6 separate regions of the Homo sapiens genome follow, and all the other regions are reported to be linked to region 1. The links are microRNA targets in miRTarBase. Many come from high-throughput screens and were not tested one by one. Region 1 holds a microRNA gene; each other region holds the end of a gene's coding sequence.

Evidence for each region. Region 1 holds the annotated microRNA hsa-miR-3689d (GGGAGGUGUGAUCUCACACUCG, at 1,458-1,479, shown strand). A microRNA usually pairs through its seed, bases 2 to 8, with sites in the 3' UTR of a target mRNA and lowers its output. Matches are read on the target gene's strand: a 7mer-m8 pairs with bases 2 to 8, a 7mer-A1 pairs with bases 2 to 7 and ends in A, and an 8mer does both.
Region 2: miRTarBase lists HACD2 as a target of hsa-miR-3689d. Seed matches in the 3' UTR shown: 7mer-m8 at 3,763-3,769 and 7mer-m8 at 2,177-2,183.
Region 3: miRTarBase lists ATP8B2 as a target of hsa-miR-3689d. Seed matches in the 3' UTR shown: 7mer-A1 at 2,605-2,611 and 7mer-m8 at 2,600-2,606.
Region 4: miRTarBase lists TSPAN6 as a target of hsa-miR-3689d. The part of its 3' UTR that is shown has no 7-base or 8-base seed match.
Region 5: the mRNA of LRRC3C is a reported target of hsa-miR-3689d. The part of its 3' UTR that is shown has no 7-base or 8-base seed match.
Region 6: miRTarBase lists TBC1D25 as a target of hsa-miR-3689d. Seed matches in the 3' UTR shown: 7mer-m8 at 290-296.

The regions. Positions count from the first base shown.
Region 1 is chr9:134,847,051-134,851,138 of GRCh38, reverse strand. It overlaps MIR3689D1 (microRNA 3689d-1), which reads left to right and starts at 1,457; the gene lies at 1,457-1,530. MIR3689C (microRNA 3689c) reads left to right here and starts at 1,770; the gene lies at 1,770-1,841. MIR3689A (microRNA 3689a) reads left to right here and starts at 1,575; the gene lies at 1,575-1,652. MIR3689B (microRNA 3689b) reads left to right here and starts at 867; the gene lies at 867-1,014. It also overlaps MIR3689D2, MIR3689E, MIR3689F and LOC101448202.
Region 2 is chr3:123,491,106-123,495,193 of GRCh38, forward strand. HACD2 (3-hydroxyacyl-CoA dehydratase 2) reads right to left here. Exons shown (of 7, transcript NM_198402.5): 7 at 449-3,865. The coding sequence ends at 3,783. Among named protein-coding and RNA genes, the nearest start is that of ADCY5, 44 kb to the left of the region's middle.
Region 3 is chr1:154,348,677-154,352,764 of GRCh38, reverse strand. It overlaps ATP8B2 (ATPase phospholipid transporting 8B2), which reads right to left. Exons shown (of 28, transcript NM_001370597.1): 28 at 1,461-3,925. The coding sequence ends at 3,647. Among named protein-coding and RNA genes, the nearest start is that of ATP8B2, 25 kb to the right of the region's middle. RefSeq lists enhancers at 2,467-3,450, 3,451-4,088.
Region 4 is chrX:100,627,379-100,631,466 of GRCh38, reverse strand. It overlaps TSPAN6 (tetraspanin 6), which reads left to right. Exons shown (of 8, transcript NM_003270.4): 7 at 601-708; 8 at 1,481-4,088. The coding sequence ends at 669. Among named protein-coding and RNA genes, the nearest start is that of TSPAN6, 7.4 kb to the left of the region's middle.
Region 5 is chr17:39,944,450-39,948,537 of GRCh38, forward strand. LRRC3C (leucine rich repeat containing 3C) reads left to right here. Exons shown (of 4, transcript NM_001195545.2): 4 at 1-550. The coding sequence ends at 285. Among named protein-coding and RNA genes, the nearest start is that of GSDMA, 17 kb to the right of the region's middle.
Region 6 is chrX:48,560,761-48,564,848 of GRCh38, forward strand. TBC1D25 (TBC1 domain family member 25) reads left to right here. Exons shown (of 6, transcript NM_002536.4): 6 at 1-1,849. The coding sequence ends at 215. Among named protein-coding and RNA genes, the nearest start is that of RBM3, 12 kb to the right of the region's middle.

The DNA.
Region 1 (4,088 bases):
ATGCGTACTTTTAGGGGGCTCCCCGGATGACTTCAACAGGCAGCCAGGTGGGGGCCACTGATGGGCAGACACCAAGAAACACCAGGAACACTTCTGCTAAGCGCTGGCCTTGTCCCATTAAGAACCTGTGGCTCCCCTGGGAGGTGTGATCCCGTGCTCCCTGGGAGGTGTGATCCCGTGCTCCCTGGGAGGTGTATCCTGTGCTCCCTGGGAGGTATGATCCTGTGCTCCCTGGGAGGTGTATCCTGTGCTTCCTGGGAGGTGTGATATCGTGGTTCCTGGGAGGTGTGATCCTGTGCTTCCTGGAAGGTGTGATCCTGTGCTTCCTGGGAGGTGTGATATCGTGCTTCCTGGGACGTGTGATGCTGTGCTTCCTGGGAGGTGTGATCCCACACTCGCTGGGAGGTGTGATCCCGTGCTCCCTGGGAGGTCTGATCCCGTGCTTTCCTGGGAGGTGTGATCCCGTGCTCCCTGGGAGGTCTGATCCCATGCCTCCTGGGAGGTGTGATATCATGGTTCCTGGGAGGTATGATATCGTGGTTCCTGGGAGGTGTGATCCCGTGCTCCCTGGGAGGTCTGATCCCGTGCTTCCTGGGAGGTATGATATCATGGTTCCTGGGAGGTATGATATCGTGGTTCCTGGGAGGTGTGATCCCGTGCTTCCTGGGAGGTGTGATCCTGTGCTTCCTGGGAGGTGTGATCCCATGCTTCCTGGGAGGTGTGATCCTGTGCTTCCTGGGAGGTGTGATACCATGCTTCCTGGGAGGTGTGATCCCACGCTCACTGGGAGGTGTGATCTCACACTCGCTGGGAGGTGTGCTATCGTCTTCCCTGGGAGGTGTGATCCTGTTCTTCCTGAGCGGTGTGATCCTGTGCTCCCTGGGGGGTCTGATCCTGTGCTTCCTGGGAGGTGTGATATCATGGTTCCTGGGAGGTGTGATCCCGTGCTTCCTGGGAGGTGTGATATTGTGGTTCCTGGGAGGTGTGATCCCGTGCTCCCTGGGAGGTGTGATCCCGTGCTCCCTGGGAGGTGTGATCCCGTGCTCCCTGGGAGGTGTGATCCCGTGCTCCCTGGGAGGTGTGATCCCGTGCTCCCTGTGAGGTCTGATCCTGTGCTTCCTGGGAGGTGTGATATCGTGGTTCCTGGGAGGTGTGATATCGTGGTTCCTGGGAGGTGTGATCCCGTGCTTCCTGGGAGGTGTGATCCTGTGCTTCCTGGAAGGTGTGATATCGTGGTTCCTGGGAGGTGTGATATCGTGGTTCCTGGGAGGTGTGATATCGTGGTTCCTGGGAGGTGTGATATCGTGGTTCCTGGGAGGTGTGATCTGGTGCTCCCTGGGAGGTGTGATCCCATGCTTCCTGGGAGGTGTGATCCCGTGCTTCCTGGGAGGTGTGATCCTGTGCTTCCTGGGAGGTGTGATACCATGCTTCCTGGGAGGTGTGATCCCACGCTCACTGGGAGGTGTGATCTCACACTCGCTGGGAGGTGTGCTATCGTCTTCCCCGGGAGGTGTGATCCTGTTCTTCCTGAGAGGTGTGATCCTGTGCTCCCTGGGGGGTCTGATCCTGTGCTCCCTGGGAGGTGTGATATCATGGTTCCTGGGAGGTGTGATCCTGTGCTTCCTGGGAGGTGTGATATCGTGGTTCCTGGGAGGTGTGATCCCGTGCTTCCTGGGAGGTGTGATACTGTGCTTCCTGGGAGGTGTGATCCCGTGCTCCCCAGGAGGTCTGATCCCGTGCTTCCTGGGAGGTGTGATATCGTGGTTCCTGGGAGGTGTGATATCGTGGTTCCTGGGAGGTGTGATATCGTGGTTCCTGGGAGGTGTGATATTGTGGTTCCTGGGAGGTGTGATCCCGTGCTTCCTGGGAGGTGTGATCCTGTGCTTCCTGGGAGGTGTGATCCTGTGCTTCCTGGGAGGTGTGATCCTGTGCTTCCTGGGAGGTGTGATATCGTGGTTCCTGGGAGGTGTGATCTGGTGCTCCCTGGGAGGTGTGATCCGGTGCTCCCTGGGAGGTGTGATCCTGTGCTTCCTGGGAGGTGTGATCCTGTGCTTCCTGGGAGGTGTGATATCGTGGTTCCTGGGAGGTGTGATCCGGTGCTCCCTGGGAGGTGTGATCCAGTGCTCCCTGGGAGGTGTGATCCCGTGCTCCCTGGGAGGTGTGATCCCATGCTCCCTGGGAGGTGTGATCCCGTGCTCCCTGGGAGGTGTGATCCCGTGCTCCCTGGGAGGTGTGATCCCGTGCTTCCTGGGAGGTGTGATCCCGTGCTTCCTGGGAGGTGTGATCCCGTGCTTCCTGGGAGGTGTGATCCCGTGCTTCCTGGGAGGTGTGATCCTGTGCTTCCTGGGAGGTGTGATCACATGCCTGCTGGTGATAGAGAGGCACAGCTCCCCATTGGGGAACAACCAGGACCCAGCCCTGGGAGGTGTGGATTCAGGAGGGCCCCAGAGGCCTGCATGAGCTAGTGAGAGCTAGGAGGTGGTGTCCGCACTGGGAGCGGGACCCACACAGAGGGCACGTGGGGTAAGCATCAATGAAGTTCCGGGTGTCAGCCAATTGCACCCTCCCAATGGCCCTGGAGCAGTTGCAAAAGCTTCCTGCTCTCCCATCGTCCCCTTCTCCAACCCACTCCCGAATGCAGACGCCCCTGGCCCTCCTGGGTGGCCAGAGCCTGAGGACACTCACTAGGACAGCCCTGGGCAGCTCAAAGGAGCACTTTGGCCTGGCACAGGCCAGCTCCAGGGATGCCCCCACCTTCCTCCACATGCATGGATCGGGTTTCGTCACCAAGACATCTGCAGGACAGGAGCGGGGCCTCTGGCCACATGGCCAGAGTGCCTCCTCCATTCATGGGTCCCATGTGCAAATGGGCAGACAGGAGCTCTGAGCAGCAGATTCCCCGAGGCCACATGGGGCACTGGTGGCATCTGAGCCTGGGTCGCTGAGGCAGCTGTCCTCAGCCTGGTCTCACCAGGCCACAGCTGTCAGTGGGTAAACGTGTGTGCGCGTGTGTGTGTGCTCCTGCGGCACTGTGGGGGTCATGCCTGTGGCTGAGCATCTCCTGGAATTCTCTCGTCTCACTTTCGACCTCCTCTTCTCAGCAAATCCCATCAACCCCATCTTTGAAACACCTGGAGCCGGAGTGTGACCCACTCTCATGGGTCTGCACCGCCCCCAGCCTGCGTCTGGGTTACTGCCCCGTGTGGCTTCCCTCCCCATCTCTGCTCAGGCCACACCAGCCCCCTCCCACTTCCCCTTCCTCTCCCCACTCCCTCTGGCCTCTGCCCTGCTGTTCCCTCTCCTGCAAAGCCCTTCCTGCCCGCTGGGCTCCAGGCAGAGAGAACCTTCCCAGTGGCCCTGGTCACCCAGGAGAGCACTTCAATCCCCACCCCACACACACTACACACCCCATACACACAGGCACACACACCACACCCACACACACACTATACAGACACAGCACAAACCACACACACAGGCATGCACACTATACACATGCAGCACACACCACACACACAGGCACATTCCCCACAGGCACGCACACATATACCATACACACGCCAGCACACACACCACACAGGCACATGCACAAACACCACCTCCACACACAGGCATACACCACACACACACACACCACACACACCACACACACAGGCACACACACCACATACACAGGCACAGCTCCCCACAGGCACACACACACACCACACAGGCACACCACACACACAGGTACACACACAACACACATACACTTCACATAAACACAAATAGCACATGCAAAATACACCACATAGCACATGCACACACGTGCCATACACACATGCACATCACCCCCCCCACACACACACAACCACACACATGCACATTGTCTCCTCCCCTTTACATTTCCTCAGGTCTCATTCCTCTGGGCACACCTTACCCCTGCCTTGTGGGTCTTGGTCAGCCCGTGTCCCCTGGAGTGGCATCTCCTTGAGGGTGGGTTCTCCCCTGCTGCTCCCGCCTGGCACACAGCAGGTGGTCAATGAACTGCCACTGAAGGAATGGGGGAATGAATGGATGAATGAAAGAGTGGATGGATGGATGGATGG
Region 2 (4,088 bases), not on the chromosome of region 1:
GCTTGAATCCGGGAGGTGAAGGTTGCAGTGAGCTGAGATCGTGCCATTGCACTCCAGCCTGGGCAACAACAGCGAAACTCTGTCTCAAAACAAAAAAAGAAAAGTTACACTAACAAAACCCCAGCTTGTTATAAGACAAGGTTCCTCAACCCCATGCTGATTAATATCTTAGATTCCCTGGTCACTTGCATGAGGAACCCCTTGTCCCTCTGCAGCCAGCTTGCAGACTGGCTTAGCCTGAAGACTGACTGGCAGGGAAGGACTTTTTGGAAACCTCTTAATATAATCTGTCTTTCCTGTAAGTGCAGAACCATTATGAATAGCAGAATTAGATTTTAAAATTGTCAAAGAGCTGGAGTCCATAATTGAACTGAAATTCTCCCATATTCCTGCAACACCACATTCAGGCCTACTGACTATGAAAAATCACTGCACTCACTGGTAGGTATTTCAAATCCAGGCAGAGCACACACCAGTTTATTTTGAAATGCAACACAGATCAGTATTTTATGAATACAACTTATTACTACATTATCAGGTAAAAACAGCTTTCAAATGCATGCATAGAAAGTTAAGCGTAGTCTCTGGACTCCTTATTTCTAAATATACAAAAAATACATTTAAATTATATAATTTTAGTGAATCAAAGACTTATAAAATTACAATTTTGGTTTTCACAACATAGAAAAAATACAAAAATGACTATATATACGGTTGTACAATTTTTTACCCAAATTTCAAAGGAGCAGTATGTATTGAATTTAATGTTTTATAATGTTTTATCTGAAACTCAGAACTGCAAGTAATTTGCAGGTTGTACCATATCAATGCCAACCTTTTATTATAAATGAATAACCAAAAAAATAAGTGAAAAATGAGGGCACGATCTCTTCTTACACCTCTTCAACTCTCCAGCATCTAAACCTTTCCTGTCAGAAGTCTGCTCTGGAGACTTTTTTCATCTGCAAGGACAGTGCTTTATTCCATGACTAACTCTCCATGGTGCCTCTGGATAATGGTTGGTATGTGTTAAATGAATAAGCCCAACCTCAGCAAACAGAACGCAGCAAGATGTAGATTAGCAGTCTGTGCTGACAAAAGCACTACTGCGGACCTCAAAGAATTCTCTGTCAGAAGAAGGCCCCCACGGAGGGATCTGAAATACATAATCAAGTGGGTAGTTGGGAGGATGATGCCTTTGACTATGCCCTGAAATGAAACCTCTAAGTCTGACAAAATACCCACAAAAACATGACCTTCCTTGTTCACACTTTATAAGAAGGTGTGACATTTGGTGGTGTGGTTGTTCTCAATTTATAAAATAATAAATGACTTCAAAGGAGAAATGAATTCATGTTAGGGATAAAGAAACCAGTTACTGAGAGAGGTTACTGAAGGACACAGTGACATGCCTTACTTATCTGCCATAAGTATTCTAAATGTTGATGTACAAAAATACACACTGGGGTTGAGACCCTTTTTGAAAAGGGAGCTGTGTGCTGTGTTCTCATTGCCAAAGTTCAATTCAATGCAACACCACTGTTTGCAACAGAATGTTTTTTATAAGTAGTGACAAATTATAATAAGGAGGCCCAAATAAAACCCCCAGTCCAGCAACCCTGGAAAAGCTGCATTTTTCATCCTGATTTCTAGAATTTTTCCAAAAACAACTGAAAAAATCTAACAGAACAAAGTAAATGACAAATATAACCCAAGTTGATTCTATTTTATAGTAGAAATACATTATGGAAGAATAAAATGAGAGAAAAGTCATGCAAAAAATCTTTCCCACATATTTTGTCTATCAAATACAAGAATAGATTCTAATTTCAACATGTCCAAGTTGAGTGCTGACTTTAAGAAGCAGAATTTTAATGTTCAATTCAAAAATAATTTATTACACACCTGCCTGCATTAAATTTTCAAACTTCTATAAAAATAAGCACTTAAAAATTTAGTTTTCCAGGGGTTGGGTGCAGTGGCTCATGCCTGCAATCCCAGCACTTTGGGAGGCTGAGGCGGGTGGATCACGAGGTCAGGAGATCAAGACCATCCTGGCTAACACGGTGAAACCCCGTCTCTACTAAAAATACAAAAAAAATTAGCTGGGTGTGGTGGCAGGCACCTGTAGTCCCAGCTACTCAGGAGGCTGAGGCAGGAGGATGGCGTGAACCCGGGAGGTGGAGCTTGCAGTGAGCTGAGATCGCGCCACTGCACTCCAGCCTGGGCAACAGAGCGAGACTCCGTCTCAAGAGAAAAAAAAAATTTAGTTTTCCAGTATGAGTTTTCTGATATTCGCAATTATATTTTAAATGACAACTACTCAATAAGCTAAACTTTTAAACTCTTAAAGTTCAACATCAACCCCCACCCTGCCCCCAAAAAAAGGCAGCTGCAGGGGATGGGGGAGGAAAAAAGGCTCCATGAAGAAGATACTGTGCTATTTAATACTTAATGCACATCTAAACTTGGGCTTTCACATTTTCATCCAACTCTTTCTTTCTTATTTTTTTTCAGTTTACCTACAGTTGCAGTACCAATCCTTTCTTGAGGAGTTTTAAATGCATGGTTGAGCAATTAAATTGTATGAGGATGTGACATGGATTAGACAATGTCGGTAGTACCAAACTATTTCTTGGCTGCTCCAACATGCGGAGATGACACTGCTTTTAGCTCATGACAGCCCAAGGGGAATGTTTTACTGACTATGGACTTATAGCTTGGTGGAAATTAACATAGGAAGTTAATTAGCAAAAGTATCCAAACAGAAGAGTGAATGAAAATTTAAAAATAAAACAATAATGGTGTATAAATCTATTCCTGAATGTTTTTCCTGACTACCTTTCTAAAGCAACACCTTCCATGTGCTTTCACTAACACAGCCTCCTTTCCTATGTGACTGGATCCGCTTCTTCAGGGCCATCAGTGCATCAGTGAGAATAGCTACTGGCAAACACGTTACTCAGAGGTGTTCTGAGAATGGTGCTGTGAAAAGGACTTGTCACTTTTGAGCTATTGAGCTCCCCCTTTCTGAGACCTGTCATTTTGTTAAGACATGATTGAGGCTGAGCTCCAGATAAGATATATTCTTTACGGTACACACATACTTATTAGATTCAAGCACGTTTCTTAGTGGCAGGCAGTAATGACTCAATTGGAAACAAACAAAAGGGTTCTAAGTTGTTTTCTGATTACAGGCACTACCCCGAAGCTTCATAGACATATACATTTTATAATTCATTCATTAGATGTGAGGGGATAGGTCCCAGCCATAACTTCAGAGCATTCCAGAGAACAGAGTTTGCCGCTTCAAAAATACAAAGTTTCCAGCATGCAGTCAAGCACTTTGACAAGGGAATGCTAAACACACTGCAGACTGAAACATAACTATACTGCAAGCTGGGCTATTCAGCTGGTACGACTTCATTATTCAGACTGTAACTCTCAAGTACTTAGTGTTACAGGTCTTCATTGATCAGATACATGAAGGACACAGAAGGACATAAAATGCCAAATCCCTTTCTAGTGCCATCATAAATATTAAGAACTTCTGGTTGAAAGAGCATGCTGAAATGAACTGGCCAGGGTGTTTTATGTAACAACCTTTTTCTAAAATAAAATCTCAGGCCCATGTGACACTGGATTTTTGTTTTAGTTTTGTTTGAATATTTTAAAAATAGTTCTTACTTATTTTCTATGAAACGTATTGGGAACTCAAAAAATCTGCAGCATTTTTTGATCATTGAAAAGTTTGTTTTGGTGGGAGGTGCAGAAAGCAGGAACTATTCAAATTTCTTGTGTTCTTCAGTATGAGAAAGGATCTTTCTTCTCTGGTGTATCATGTGGAAGTATAACTGGGGAAAAACTGAAAAGAAAAGAAAAATTGGTTAAGAGGATGGTTTAAAATTGCATATGCTCTATTTAAAGCATATGAAGTTGAGGTCCTCTCTGACCCTCTGACTAATTTCTCATCCAGCAACCAAGGAAGGTAACAAAGTGGGCTTGGGGAAAGGAAGAAAAAACACAGAGAGACTTACCTCCTTTCTTTTCCTGCTTTAGCTGAGGGAAGAAGTGGTGTGGAATACAAT
Region 3 (4,088 bases), not on the chromosome of region 1:
ACAGACTTCACCTCCACGCACTCAGAAAAGGCACTAGGACGATGGGGACCTAGGGGCTGGAAGCCACTCCCACAGGAGCCCAGGTGCTCAGTCAGCGCAGGGAAGGAAGACCAGGGATGCCTGCGGCAGAGGGGAGAAAACGGGGAGCCCGAGTGCCCGGAGCCTCCGTGGAGGCGTGTGTCTATATCGCGACGGAGAAAACGCGTCCCCAAGAGGCAATGAAAGTTAAAATGACATTGGCCCTGCCCCTCAGACACACATAATAGGATCCTGGGTGCAGGAGAGCCAGGGTCAGCGAGAGGAGCCAAGGAAGACATTCCCAGTGGCTGAACAGACCCCCAACGGGAGGCCAGCGCAGTGCTGAAGACCTGTCTTGTGGGAGGGGTGGACTTGGGGCCTCACCAGCCTCAAGGGATTAAGGCTTCTTTCTGTGTTTCGGGGGTGGGGGCACTGAAGCCAGATGCCACTTGCTGCCCAAAGCTCAGGGTTCCAGACAGACCCCAAAGAAAGGCTTGTGTGGACTGGACAGCCTCTCCCTGGGTGGAGGTGGGTGTCAGGTGGTGTTCCTGGCGGTCTGTGGCGGGATTCCCGCCAGGGGCCGTTTCTCCTGAAGAGGGAAACAGATCTTATCTTCACATCTTCCCCCCATACACCCTCCGCTCCCCCACCCTTTTTTTTTTTTTTTTTAATACAGGCGGGGTCTCCCCATGTTGCCCAGGCTGGTCTTGAACTCCTGGGCTGGGCTCAAGTGATCCTCCTGCCTCAGCCTCGCAAAATGCTGGGATTACAGGCATTGAGCCACCACACCCAGTCTACGTTTTTGAGAAGGATTGTTCCATAACTGAAGACTGGCTGGGTCAGGGGGAAATTAGCCTGCGGGTGGGGCTGGATCATGCTGATATTGGCCATCGGCGGAGGAAGCTATACTTCTTTCTCCTCAGGCCAGCACTAACCCTGGCCCTGACTCCTAGGACCCCATCCTCATCCGCCCTCCCTTCCCTGGAGGAAAGCTCCCTTTAATATAAGACTTTAGCTTCCTTGATACTCACTTGAGAAGCCAGGAAGATGTGAGGCATGCGGAAAAGCGCAGAGTTAAAAAACAAAACCTTACAATATTTACCAGGTACTTTCCCTACACACACATCCATCTGGCGTGTGTTAGGGATGACAGGTTGGCCTGCGTTTGGAGAAAGGTAAACAGCTCAAGGTCCTAGGCACCCAGCCAAAGTCCATACGATATGCCGCTCAGTACCACCCACTGCCCCGTCTTCATCTTCAGCTGAAACTCAGATCCCGGGAGGTCTGCAAATGGATGAGGTGCTATCCCACACCAGTCAGATTCCAATTTGTCCAAGATATCCCAGATCTACCCACTCAATTACATTTAAGAGACAGTTTCTGTCTTTACTTTCACCACCAGTCTTGGTTAAACATCAGAAAAGAGACAAATTACACACTTCTCAGAAATTGAAATTTTATAAAAAGGCATTTTTCTCTTATATCCATAAAATGATATAATTTTTGCAAGTATAGAAATGTGTCATAAATTATAATGTTCCTTAATTACAGCTCAATGCAACTTGGTACTTTCTTCCCTCCCTAAAAAACGAGAGAGAACCAAAAAATAATATATATATATATAACTGTATATATATATTTATATAATATAGACAAACAAAATATGAAAAAAAATCATTTCCTCTTTGGTATAAAAATCAGACTCTCACCTTGAGAGACACACAGACAGACATGATACTGGGTTTGTAAACTGTGTGGCCAAAAGGGATTTCCCTGCCAAGACTTCCCCTCTCCCATTCCCTGCCCACCCGCCCCCACCTCACTGCAGCCCATCCAGTTCCTTTGGGGCTCCCATATGGAACATTTAAAATCCCCCTACCCACTCCCAGCTCCAAACCATTCCTGAAGAATCCCCCGACCCACTATCAAAGAAGAGGAAAGGATTCTTCTCAAGGCTGATTAGGTAGCGACTAACTTGGGAAATGCCTTATTTAGGGAATAGCTTCATAGGTGTGGATGAAGTAAAGGACAGGCTGTGGCCAAACTCTGACAGTGTCCCATCCAGACCAAGCCAGGCACTGGCCTGGGCCTGGTTTTGCCCTTATCCTCCTCTACTACCCGGCACAAGGATTCCACCACCTCTTGCCAGAGGCTGGGCCTGAGGGGCGGGGCTCCTTGCTTACTGAAGAAGGGAGCAGAGAGGCCAATTCCCGTTCCAGCCTCATCTCAGGTGCACAGCTTCCCCCTGCAGCCCCACCACAGGGCCCTGGGGTGTAGATGCAAGAAAGCACCAGATGGGGAGGCAAAGGGAGGTCAAAAGGGAGTCTGCCAATAAACTTGGGTTTAAATTTAAAATTAAAGAAAACTACGCCTCCCTGAGCTGGGTGTGGTGGCTCACGCCTGTAATCTCAGCACTTTGGGAGGTTGAGGTGGGCAGGTCAGGAGGTCAGGAATTCAAGACTAGCCTGGCCAACATGGTGAAACATCTCTACTAAAAATACAAAAATTAACCAAGCGTGGTGGTGTGTGCCTGTAATCCCAGCTACTCAGGAGGCTGAGGCAGGAGAATCGCTTGAACCCAGGAGGTGGAGGTTGCAGTGAGCTGAGATTGTGCCATTGCACTCTTGCCTAGGTGACAAGAGTGAGACTCCATCTCAAAAAAAAAAAGAAAAAAAGAAAAAGAAAAAAGAAAAGAAAACTACCCCTCCCCACTGACCAAATTTCAGACCCAGCTTTAGCTCACTAAGGATTTGGGGGCCACTTTCCTAGGCTCCAGCCCAAGGCCAGCAGGACTAAGGAATCCAGGAATTGATATGTGTGTGTGTTGGGGGCAGAGGGCAGCACTTTACTCTCAAGGTGAGGAAGCAGACAGGACCAAACCCTCCTTTACACTCTCCCACTACCCTCTGCTCATGGGTACCTCCCTCCCTGGTCAGCTCCTCTGCCCCACAGAGCACTGGTCACTGCAGGCAGAGCCGACATGGATCCTCCCAAACCACCCCACAGCCGGCCAGGCTGCGGCATCCCAGTGTGTGCCAGCCTCCTTTTCCCAGGAGAGTTAAGACACCAACCACAACATAAAAGTCACATAAAAGCCTCCTCCACTTGCCAAATAAAAAAAGACAAAACCAAACTGGACACAACACAAATCAAGGAGAGACATACACGATGTGAGGGGCCGAGGCCCCTGCAGGTCTCTGGCTTCCCGGCATGGTACATTCTTATGTAATTCAGGAACAGAGGCACTAGGGCCCCTCTGGGGAGTAGGAGTAAAAAAATAAGGAGATTATAGTCTCCCTGTGGGTCCCAGGCAGGGCAGGGGCAGACACAATCTCTCACAGTTTTTTCTTGTTTTTGGTTCCACTTCTGGTCCCCGAGTGGGGCTGGCTCCCCGTGCCTCAGCCTCTGCTCTGCCCTTGGGCCTGCTCCCTCTAGCTCCCCAGCTGGTGGAAGGGCCTACAGCTGGGAACAGATGTCCCAGCCATGTGTGGTGGGACCAGCAGGACAGAGTCTACCGGGGGGACGGGAAGCAAGGAATGAGGACCAGCAGTTCCGAGACGCTGTTCCCTCAGTGACTGGCCAGCCCTGGGTGCTCTGGTCACTGGCACAGGGCATCCATCCTCGGCCTTCAGCCCTTGAGGGGCTTGTCGGCACCGCCACTGGGGCTACTGGCACTGTCACTCTTCTTCCTGCGCAGGCTCTCAATCCAGCTGGAGCTGGAGCGGGTGGTGAAGCTGGAGAGCGCGAGAGAGCTCAGCCGCATGTTCTTGCCAGACATGATGAGCTCCCCGAAGCCCTCCTGATGGGAGAAGGCATAGCCGGAGCGCCGGGAGCCAGTGCGGCCAACCCGCCGCATGCAGCGGTGCTGGGCCTTCTGCTTCTTCCTCACGAGCTGTGTGTAGCGGACCTGCAGAGGGGCACAGGGAAGAGCCCTCTGTCAGCGTGGAGGTGTCAGATATCGCCAAGGAGAAGGGACCCACAGCACCCGGGACCAGGCTGACACAGAGGCCTCCGACCCACAGCACCTGGGACCAGGCTGACGCAGAGGCCTCTGTGGCCAGCTGCACAGG
Region 4 (4,088 bases), not on the chromosome of region 1:
ATTCAAGTTTCGTCTTAATATATTTTTAAAGTAGTAAGCAAAGCTATATCTAAATCTATGCTAATGCAGTAGCCACTAGCCACCTTTGAATTGTTATAAATTATTAAATAAAATTAAAACCTCAGTTTGCTGGAGATTTGAAATACTTAGTAGCCATGTGGCTGCTGCCTACTATATCGGACAGTACAGGGATTCTAGAACATTTTCATTATTGTAGCATTGCTGTGGATCTTTCCAGGGAAATCTCTGCCCTCGTTGATGGAGATTTCACTTGTTAAGATACTTATTGAAAACCATGTATTTGTTTTTTCTGGGAAATGAGAGTAAGAAAAGTTTCTTCAAAACTCGTGACTGAATTTTCCTTGAGTGAGTTTGCTGGATTTTCCTTTGGTGAGAGTTGTGAAATTCTGGGTCACAGTGGCAATAAAACTTCACTTAGATTCTTTGAATGTGATCTAGATGCTGCAGAGTATTAAACATAACTCTAGAAAAACTCAAGGACGAAAATTATAAGCGAATTACAAGTGAGAGGAGAATATAGTCTGAGGTGTTCAAGTTCTTTTGTGTATGTATTTAATTTTGTTCCTATTTTATTTCTAGCTGATTGGAATCTTTCTCGCCTACTGCCTCTCTCGTGCCATAACAAATAACCAGTATGAGATAGTGTAACCCAATGTATCTGTGGGCCTATTCCTCTCTACCTTTAAGGTGCGTTCATTTTGGTCCTCAGCTCTGTTAGTGTTGATATTTATTCTAGCCTGTGTATGTGATGCATGGACTAAGTTTGCCAAGAACGTCTTGTCTAGTAATATATTTAAATCTAGCTGGTGCTATGTAAACCCTGTGTAGGCAGGTTAGGTCTCTATACACAGGGCATGGTCAGAAAGTAATGACTTAGCTACAGCTTATCTATGCATGCTCTCTACAGTTATGCAACAGAAGACTCCCCGTGTGGGTTTATATATTTACATACACATGTCAGCCTAAAGATCATAAGTGGTCCCTTTTTTAACATGTTTTGGCCTGGAGAGAGGAGAAACAAAGAATCCCAAGAATGACCTTATTCGTGAGGTTCCCTGGCAGGTGCACTCTGCTCCTCACCAATATTGACATTTTCCTTAGTCCTTTTCGTAGTTTTCATTTACCACAATCTTAATCAGTTGTTGAGAGTGTGGCTTTCTTGGTAAAAAGATGTTTTTGGTGGGCTTTTGTTAAAACCGTAAACTCATCTGGTCTAATAAGGAACCAGATTTTGGGAAGACATGTGTTTCAATGGCGTTAGTATTTGACTGGTAAAATACTGTGAGAACTGTTGTTGGCTGAATTGATCCCTAGGGCACACTTTGCATTTTACTTGAGCCACTGACTAGGAACACATAGGAAGGTCTTCATTAGCAGGAATAGATTAGAATGTATGTAAGCAAATACAGATGTTGAAATTTGGGTAACAAGTACATTAACTTTTTTTCTTTAATTTTAGGACATTTAGGGTCCCCCCTGTGAATTAGAAAGTTGCTTGGCTGGAGAACTGACAACACTACTTACTGATAGACCAAAAAACTACACCAGTAGGTTGATTCAATCAAGATGTATGTAGACCTAAAACTACACCAATAGGCTGATTCAATCAAGATCCGTGCTCGCAGTGGGCTGATTCAATCAAGATGTATGTTTGCTATGTTCTAAGTCCACCTTCTATCCCATTCATGTTAGATCGTTGAAACCCTGTATCCCTCTGAAACACTGGAAGAGCTAGTAAATTGTAAATGAAGTAATACTGTGTTCCTCTTGACTGTTATTTTTCTTAGTAGGGGGCCTTTGGAAGGCACTGTGAATTTGCTATTTTGATGTAGTGTTACAAGATGGAAAATTGATTCCTCTGACTTTGCTATTGATGTAGTGTGATAGAAAATTCACCCCTCTGAACTGGCTCCTTCCCAGTCAAGGTTATCTGGTTTGATTGTATAATTTGCACCAAGAAGTTAAAATGTTTTATGACTCTCTGTTCTGCTGACAGGCAGAGAGTCACATTGTGTAATTTAATTTCAGTCAGTCAATAGATGGCATCCCTCATCAGGGTTGCCAGATGGTGATAACAGTGTAAGGCCTTGGGTCTAAGGCATCCACGACTGGAAGGGACTACTGATGTTCTGTGATACATCAGGTTTCAGCACACAACTTACATTTCTTTGCCTCCAAATTGAGGCATTTATTATGATGTTCATACTTTCCCTCTTGTTTGAAAGTTTCTAATTATTAAATGGTGTCGGAATTGTTGTATTTTCCTTAGGAATTCAGTGGAACTTATCTTCATTAAATTTAGCTGGTACCAGGTTGATATGACTTGTCAATATTATGGTCAACTTTAAGTCTTAGTTTTCGTTTGTGCCTTTGATTAATAAGTATAACTCTTATACAATAAATACTGCTTTCCTCTAAAAAGATCGTGTTTAAATTAACTTGTAGAAAATCTGCTGGAATGGTTGTTGTTTTCCACTGAGAAAGCTAAGCCCTACATTTCTATTCAGAGTACTGTTTTTAGATGTGAAATATAAGCCTGCGGCCTTAACTCTGTATTAAAAAAAATGTTTTTGTTTAAAAAAAACTGTTCCCATAGGTGCAGCAAACCACCATGGCACATGTATACCTATGTAACAAACCTGCACATTCTGCACATGTATCCCAGAACTTAATGTAAACAAAAAAATCTTAAAGTGCAAATATTAAAAAAAACTGTTCTCTGTGAAAAAAATTATATTCCATGTTATAAAGTAGCATATGACTAGTGTTCTCCTAGAGATCAGACTTTTTTGATTGTATAGTTTGCATTAAAAAGTTGTACAGGGAGGGATGTAACCTGTATCTTCAGGATAATAGGGAAATTAATAAGGAAAATAATAATTACTAAAATTTGAGTTGAAGTCAGGGAATTATTTCTTTGGTTTTGAGTCTCTTTATACATCCATTAGTAGAACCTGTCTAGTCTGATTGCCACAGTCCTTGAATTGATGGTAAGGGGGAGTCAGTTACAGTTAGAAAAAAACCTGGGCAAAAACTACTAGTTAAATGATCATGAATTTTGAGTATGTGTTTTAAAATGCTTGGAGTTATTGCAGAAAAATGATATTCTCCATTAGAACATTTGATGTGTGACTTTTGACATAGGATAAGGTGATAAGAAAATTAAGTTGAAAAATAGTGACTCAAGTACAGCAAATCAGATTTTTGGCTACTGAGATTAAAGAAGCAAATATTTAAAGGATTATCAGCAATTTTCAAATACATATTTTTCACTGCAGTGGTTTTGAAGAATGTTTTAAGGTTATATTTAGAGTTTTTAAAAAAGTTTTCCCTCAGCCAGCCATGGTGGCTCACATCTGTAATCCCAGCACTTTGAGAGGCTGAGGCGGGCGGATCACCTGAGGTCAGGAGTTCTAGACCAGCCTGGCCAACATGGTAAAACACCGTCTCTAATAAAAATGCAAAAATTAGCTGGGTGTGGTGGCAAGCACCTGTAATCCCAGCTACTTGGGAGACTGAGGCAGGAGAATCACTTGAATCCAGGAGTCAGAGGTTGCAGTGAGCCGAGATCACACCACTGCACTCCAGCCTGGGCGATAAGAGTGAACCTGCATCTCAGAAAAAAAAAAAAAGTTTTCCCTCATTATTAAAAAGGAAAAATTATAGAAAATTAAAATATAGAATGTAGAAAGAGGAAAAACACCACACATCACTCGTCAGGTGGATTGGTTTGTTTATTTTTAAGATGGGTTTATTTTGGATAGCCAGTTAGAAAACGCCCTTATAGCTGATGTGTGCTTGTGCATACTGAATTGTATACTTAATTCTGAAAGTAATGAGGAAACATTTCACCTAATGATAACTGGTACAAAGGAAAGTTCACGTGTCTTTAATAGTTTGCTAATTAGACTAGCTGGTTAGAAAGAGGGATCACTAGATTGGAGAGAGAGATCCAGTTTCCACTGGAGGCAGTAGGTCTGCTCATTTCCATGGTGACAATCCTAATGGCAGAGGGAGTGAGTTTCCCTTAGTGGCACAGGCTGGGGGTTTTGAGCTTTTAAGTTTTG
Region 5 (4,088 bases), not on the chromosome of region 1:
GGGACAGGCATCGTGTGTGGCTCAGGAGCCCGACCGGACCTCGTGGGGCAGGAGTTCCTGCTGCTGGCAGGGGAGGAAGAGCTGTGTGGGTCGGGGTGGGGTGGGGCCCGGAGGAGCACCGATGTGGCCCTGCTGGTCACCATGGGGGGCTGGCTGACACTCATGGTGGCTTATCTGGTGCATTATGTGTGGCAGAACCGAGATGAGACCAGGCGCTCCCTCAAGCGGGCCCCAGTGCTGCCCGTGCGTTCCGAGGACTCCTCCATCCTCAGCACAGTGGTCTGATGACCCAGGATGCTCCTCCAGCCACACCCCACACTCCTGCCCCTATGCCCTCTCCTTTGCTCTGACCCCCTCTGCCTCCTGTGCAGCTTCACCCCTGCCCCCAAGCCCATCCCACCCCTCCCTCCTTTATTCCCCCTAAATACCTGTGCTGGTTCTCTCTCTCTCTCTCTGTGTCGTCTTAACCAACACCATCTTTGGTGCCTGGAGTTTTTTGGTGCCTACTCTGTGCCTGGATTGTGCTAGACTCAGAAAACCCATAACAGAGAATGACAGCAGGTGGGGTGGGAGCAAGGGAGGAGGGGCTGTGGGGGGGCAGGTTGAGGAGGGAGCCTGCACCTGGCCCAGGGCGATTTCAAAGGCTTCGCTGTAGGATGTTTGAACTGATTCTTTTTTTTTTGAGATGGAGTCTCACTGTGTCAGCAGACTGGAGTGCAGTGGCAGGATCTCCGCTCACTGCAACCTCTGCCTCCCAGGTTCAAGTGATTCTCCTGCCTCAGCCTCCTGAGTAGCTGGGACTACAGGCGCGCGCCACCACGCCCAGCTAATTTTTGTATTTTTTAGTAGAGTTGGGGTTTCACCATGTTGGCCAGGATGGTCTTGATCTCTTGACCTCGTGATCTGCCCGCCTTGGCCTCCCAAAGTGCTAGGATTACAGGCGTGAGCGCGCCAGGCCCGAACTGACTCAGGTGGGTGGATCACCCAAGGCAGCACGCAACGTGAACCCCTTGGGCGATTACAGGCCCACACAGCCCGTCCACCACCAGCTTCTTCCTGCCCTACAGAGCTGAGGCCTGGAGTGGCAGAGAAAGCCAAGGGTACCCTGAGGGAGCCCCCAGCTGAGGGGGAGTGAAGCCCCACCCTTTCCTGAATTGGGCTCACAAACAGAGGCTTCGAGAGCGCAACTCTAAGACTGAGGTCTCCTACAGAGTGAGGGGCATCAAAGCGAGAGGCAACCCGGGGAGCTTATTCCAAAGGGAGGGACTGCCTCCCCCATTGGACTAAAGGGAGTTCAAACTGCTAGAAATGATTTTGCCTTAGGTCTCTGAGAATCTGCCATCATCAACCTCTCTTACCTCCAAGGAACCCATCTCTACTAAAAATACAAAAAATCAGCCGGGCGTGGTGGCAGGCACCTGTAATCCCAGCTACTCATGAGGCTGAGGCAGGAGAATCACTTGATCCCAGGAGGTTGAGGTTGCAGTGAGCTGAGATCACACCACTGCACTCCAGCCTGGGCCACAGATCGAGACCTTCTCTAAAAAAAAAAAAAAAAAGAACAGGGAGAGCTTTGGACAGAAAAGCAAGAGCAGAGAAGGCCCCTAGATGAAAGGTGTGGACAAGGCAAGGAAGATGTGCAACAACTCAGAATGTCTGGGCAGCAGCAAGACTCACCCTGGGGCTGGAAGAGAGGGTGCAAAGAGGGGCAAGGGGAAGGTGGGTGGAACCAAGCTGGAGGCGAGGTCAAAAGCCAGGCTGTGGCCAGATTTAAAAGGACACTGTGGGCTCCTCCTGTCTTCTCCCTCCGCCTCTACTGAGAGCCTCCCCTGGCTTCTTGCTTCTCTTGTCCCCAGGCTCCTCTTCCTCCTGTGCCCTCTACTGAGGATCCCCTCCTCCGACTCAAGGTCCCTAACCAGAGACTCCCTATTTCTCTCCGTCCTCTCCTTTATACACTGATTAGTTTCCTGAGCTCCTTCTTCTGGGGGGAAGGTGGTCTCCTCTATGACTGAGCTGGGGATGGGTGACTGCAGAGCTGGGGGAAGTAAGGAGACCCTGGACAACTCAATAAAGTCACTTTTATCAATGCTCCGATCTCGTATTGCTCATTTTCCTGGGCACCTGTGGCCTGTTGGTGAAGAGAACGGGTGCTGAGCTTGTCTTCAGCCCCTCCACCACCCCTTTGGTCGGGGGTGCTCCTGCTGGGCTGGAGGCCAGCTTCCCATCTCCCCTTCTGCTCCCCAGCCCCTGCCACCAGAGTCCATCTGCTGGACTGGCCAGGACTGTGCCGACACACTCAGAGCGGCTCCTGCATGGAACGACTGCCCCAGAATCCCGGACTGCTCCCTCTGCATCCTGACCCCGGGCTTGTGCTTGTCCACTGGGCAGGCAGGAGGGGGTGACGTAACTGGCTTCACTCCCATCCTCACCTCTGCCATGGACCAGGGATCACAGGACCCTGGGTTTTGAGAAACCACGGAAGCCTGGTGAGGCAGCTGGACAGCCTCGGTGATGTTGCCCGCATCTGCCCTTCTGCCTGGGACAGAGGGAGAGAAAAGGCACGCTCTTCTGGGAGACACACTGTGTCAGTCCCAAACTCTCCCACCAGGAAATGCTGGAACCTGGCTCAGGAACCAAGACAGCCCAGCCTACAGCTAACCCAGGCCTGAGGCAAGAGTTCCCGCGGCCTGGGCCCAGGTCCCAACTTGTCACCACATGCAGCATCAGGGAGCCAGTGGGCTGTGATGAGAGGAGAGGGAGAGGCCTAAAACTGCCTTTGCAAAATGATGACTGAGACAGTGAAAGAGATTTAACTTAACTGATTCCATCTTGCTTTTAACCTCCAAGCTGTCCCCGCTCATTCCTAGGCATAGGCTGAACTAACTTTGGGAAAAACTTAGTTTATAGTTTAAACAAAGACAGTAACAGCCCTTTCCCAAAGCAGACCTCCTTCTTGCCTGGGGACTAGATTGCCTTTGTAGAACTAACATTAGCCACAAGATCAGAAATTATGGTTTAGGAGTCGTGCCGCTGGAGGCTCCCTAAACTGCTCCGAAGATCAGGGCTTGAGATATTTTGCAGACCCTGCACTTGATGGATCAGCTGGCCCCACCCAGATCAATAAACTGGCTCCTCTGATCTTGTGGCCCCCACCCAGGAACTGACTGAGCACAAGAAGACAGCTTTGACTCCCTGTGATTTCATCTCTGACCAATCAGCACACCTGGTTCACTGGCTTCCCCGCAACCCACCAAGTTATCCTTAAAAACTCTGCCCCCGACGTGCTCATAGAGACTGATTTGAGTAATAATAAAGCTCTGGTCTCCACACAGCCGGCTCTGCATGAATTACTCTTTCTCTATTGCAATTCCCCCGTCTTGATAAATCGGCTCTGTCTAGGCAGCACGCAACCTGAACCCCTTGGACGATTACAGGCCCACACAGCCCTTCCGCCACCAGCTTCTTCCTGCCCTACAGAGCTGAGGCCTGGAGTGGCAGAGAAAGCCAAGGGTACCCTGAGGGAGCACCCAGCTGAGGGGGAGTGAAGCTCCACCCCTTCCTGAATTGGGCTCACAAACAGAGGCTTCGAGAGCACAACCCTAAGACTGAGGTCTCCTACAGAGTGAGGGGCATCAAAGCCAGAGGAACCCGGGGAGCTTATTCCAAAGGGAGGGACTGCCTCCCCCATTGGACTAAAGGGAGTTCGAACTGCTAGAAATGGTTTCGCCTTAGCTCTCTGAGAATCTGCCATCATCAACCTCTCTTACCTCCAAGGAACAGTCACCCCAAACCAGGAAGGCAAAGGGAAAGCAGAACAAGGCCCCCAAGCTGCCAAATGGATGCCACCACAAGCCCACCCCTTCATTCGACAAGAATCTGTTGGTCGGGCGCGGTGGCTCCAGCCAGTAATCCCAGCACTTTGGGAGACCAAGGTGGGCCCTGAGCTCAGGAGTTCGAGACCAGCCTGGCCAAGATGGTGAAACCCCGTCTCTACTAAAAATACAAAAATTAGCCGGGTGTGGTGGTGCGGGCCTGTAATCCTAGCTACTCAAGAGGCTGAGGCAGGAGGATCGCTTGAACCCAGGAGG
Region 6 (4,088 bases), not on the chromosome of region 1:
TGCTGTTCCTCTGCCTGGCCATCCTGCTGGAGCACCGCGACCACATCATGCGCAATGGGCTGGATTATAATGAGCTGGCCATGCACTTTGACCGCCTTGTGCGAAAACACCACCTGGGGCGCGTCCTGCGCCGGGCTAGGGCTCTCTTTGCTGATTACCTGCAGTCAGAGGTGTGGGACTCAGAGGAGGGGGCTGAGGCCACAGCCGCATCTTGATCAGGCTTTCTCAAGCCCTCCATCGGCCCCACCAGATCTCCATTCTTTGCCATGAGGGCCAACACATGAGACCCCACCTCCCTCCCTGCCTGCCAGCCCTAGACTTGTTGGAGCATAGAGCCCTTCCTCCCCAGGCCTAAGTATGTGGAGCTCTGCTTTGGCACTGCCCCGCAGAGGCCACGCCTATTTATTCTGTTTCTGTTGTTTTGTTTTTAACAACTATACTTTGCACACATGAAGGTCACTGTGGTTTGTGTGTTTCTCTGCCTCCTCCCTGGGTTTTGCTGTAGATGGAGTCCTCAGGGGCCCTTTACCTGATGGAGGGGAAATACTTCACTTGGTGGAGAGAGGCTCCAGCTTCCCCCTTGTGATGGGGAGAGTGGATGCTGACAATCAGTTCCCAAAGGTGAGCCCAGGTGGAGCACTGCTTGAGGAAGGCCTGAGTCTGTTTTTTTGGTACATCCATCGGCCTGTAAGGGTCTGTATTATGGCTGTGAATATATGTTTTCAGGACAGCCCCCTGGATGAGAGATAAGAGAGTTCCTGGCTCAAAAAAGGACAAGATTCTTTACTGAGATTGGGAAGTATGGGCTACTTAGAAACGTTGGAGCAGCCACCCCTGGCATTCCACATGTCACCATTTCTAGGATCTTGGCCTCTCTGTGAGGTTTATGCACCAATGCTGGCAGCCCTGGGCAGGGGCCTCGGCCTCCTTTTTGTTTTCCACTTCAGACAGGTACCGTGCAGATGTTAACAAGGTTTGAGCGAGGTGCATCTCACACAAGTGTGAAAGCCCAATCATCACATTGTTGAATTACAAAAGGATCTAGGGCTCCTATTCTTGTCACTTGCTTTGGAGCCAGTTTGAAAGACTGGCCTAGCCCATGCCTAGCGGCCCTAAACTGGGATTCCAGCTCACAGCACCTGTCTTAACCATTTCAGCAGTAGAAACCACTTATTTACCTTCTCCATCTCACTAATATGGACAAACAACAAGCACTGATAAAACGCAGGCCCTAATAGAATTCACTTCGTTATTTGGAGGATAATGATCAAAAAAAGGTCCTTTTTCCCACTGACATGCTCAGAGGGTGGGATTCTCTCACAGGCCAGGTGCTGTCATCCACAAAGGATGGGTGAAATAACTGGGGTCCTCAGGTCACGGTCTAGCCACACCAGCTTCTCCCAAGTACTAACCAGGCTTGACCCTGCTTAGCTTCAGAGGTCAGACAAGATCTGGCATGTTCAGGATGGTATGGCTGTAGACCAGGCTGGGTTCTGGCCAGAGCTGTTGCACTAGGCAATGCTGCCAGAGATGAGGAGGCATCAGGGCAGTCATCCCTTCTGCTGTTTGCCCCAAGAATGCCATACAAACCTGGGGATGACCCTTAAAAGTCTCCCGTCACCCCCAGTATTGGGGGGAAGCTGACTATTCCTCAGATGATAGCCCAGTCACTTGAAGAACAGGACAAGACTATTCTGTGTCTAGGGGGCTCAAGCACTGTGTGTGGGTCTAACGAATGCATTTTGTGGAAATGGGCTCAGACTCCCCAAAGGGCCATCCAACCTATGGGAGTGTCTGGCCTTCTGAGGTCCTGAAATGTCTCTTTTGTCAGTAAACAGCTAATACCCTCTGGGATGCATTCTGTGATTTATGAGCTCAGGTGTTTGAAGGACCAGACAAGCCAATTCTGTGGATAGTAGTTTGGGACCTCTGAGAGATAGAAGAGTCCTTTCTGTGAATAGGAGGCTCAGATACCCTGAAAGGCAGAAACCTCTAATATTCCTCTAGGATACTTGGGGTTTCTGGTTCCTGCAAAGATGGCAGACAGCACAAGCTACTGATTCCTTTGCCCGAAACCAACTCTGGAGAAACTAGAGAGGGAAACATGGGTTCCAGAAATTGCAACATAGCAATGAGAGACCCATGGGGAAATGGAAGGCTGTCTTTAACTGGTGTGTGTTTTGACGGGCGGATGGCCAGAGGCAGTAAATAGAGGATAGGTTAGGGAAAAAGATATTTAAGTTCTGGCTCTCACCTCTCCCCTATATTGCCTTGGGGAGGTCCTTGTTTGCCCCCTTCATTGCATTAATCATCCAAACCACTGGTACACATGTCTGGGGGACTAGGATCAGGGCAGCAAGGGCCCTGCAGGGGAAAGAAATAGGCAGCCAGAGGAAATCAGTCCTCCACCTGTCTCCCTCCAGACACCCGGGCTGGTGGATTACACCTAAGGAGACTGCCACCTCTTTTTTTTTTTTTTTTTGAGACAGAGTCTTGCTCCATCACCCAGGCTGGAGTGCAGTGGCGCGATCTCAGCTCACTGCAACCTCCGCCTCCCGGGTTCAAGGAATTCTCCTGTCTCAGCCTCCTGAGTAGCTGGGACTACAGGTGCCTGCCACCATGCCTGGTTAATTTTGTATTTTAGTAGAGACGGGGTTTCACCTTGTTGGTCAGGCTGGTCTCAAACTCCCGACCTCAGGTGATCCACCCGCCTCGGCCTCCCAAAGTGCTGGAATTACAGGCGTGAGCCACCGCACCCAGCCAAAACTGGCACCTCTTAAAGCGGTTTTCCTCCGACGGTTTAAAGATGAACCCCACGCTAGGGGGATTGTCAGGTGTCCAAAGGGCAGGTGAGCGGGATAACTGTGCTTCTGTGGTACCTGTGGCTGTCCAGCCTCTGGCTCCTCTCCCACACATCCTTTTACCCCTGGAGCTCCAGGTCATTAAGCTGACTCGAGTCAGGCCTTCAGCCTTTCCTCAGTACGTTCTATCAGCCAGGAGAGCGGATAATTTCAGGGGCATGTAAGTTCACCACCAAAATAACCAGACACCAGGGCAGTATGACTTCCACCAAAGAAAAAATAAACTGGACATTCTCTAGTGCTGGATAACAAATTACCCCAAACTTAGCCACTTAAAACATCACAGTTTCTGAGCTGGGTGTGGTGGCTCACACCTGTAATCCCAGCACTTTGAGAGGCAAGGCGGGCAGATCACCTGAGGTCAGGTGTTTGAGACCAGCCTGGCCAACATGGTGAAACCACGTCTCTACTAAAAATACAAAAAATTAGCTGGGCATGGTGGCACACCTGTAGTCCCAGCTACTTGGGAGGCTGAGGCAAGAGAATCGGTTGAGCCCGGGAGGCGGAGGTTGCAGTGAGCCAAGATTGTGACCCTGCACTCTAGCCTGGGTGACAGAGTGAGACTCTGCCTCCAAAAAAAAAAAAAAAACAATAAAAACCATCACAGTTTCTGAGGGTCAGGAATCTGGAAGCAGCCTAGCTGGGTAGTTTTGACTCATGGTCTCTCCTGACGTTTTACTCAAGTTGGCAGCCAGGACTGCAGTCAGATGACAGCTTCACTTGGCTGACAGACCCACTTCCAACATGGCCCACTCATCGGGCAGTTGGCAAAAGGCTTCAATTTCTCACCACCTGAGCATCTCCGTGGGGCTCCTCACAACATGTCATCCTAACGAGCAGGTGAGACCGTGACCAAGACGGAAGCCACAATGTCTACCTTAACCTCAGAAAAGACAGACCATCATTTCTGCTGTGTTACTGGTCACATAGACCAACCCTAGCACAACATGGGAGGGGACTATACAGGGCATGAATACCAGGAGGCAGGAATCATGGGGGGCTATATTGGAGGCCGCCTCCTACACTGGGTAACATATAATATCTGAAGCAGAAGTATTGAGACAGATGAAAAATTTTAAATAAACATAATAAATAAAAACTATTAGAATATAGGGCTGGGCGTGGTGGCTCACGCCTGTAATCCCAACACTTTGGGAGGCCGAGGTGGGCAGATCACAAGGTCAGGAGATGACACCATCCTGGCTAACATGGGGAAACCCCGTATCT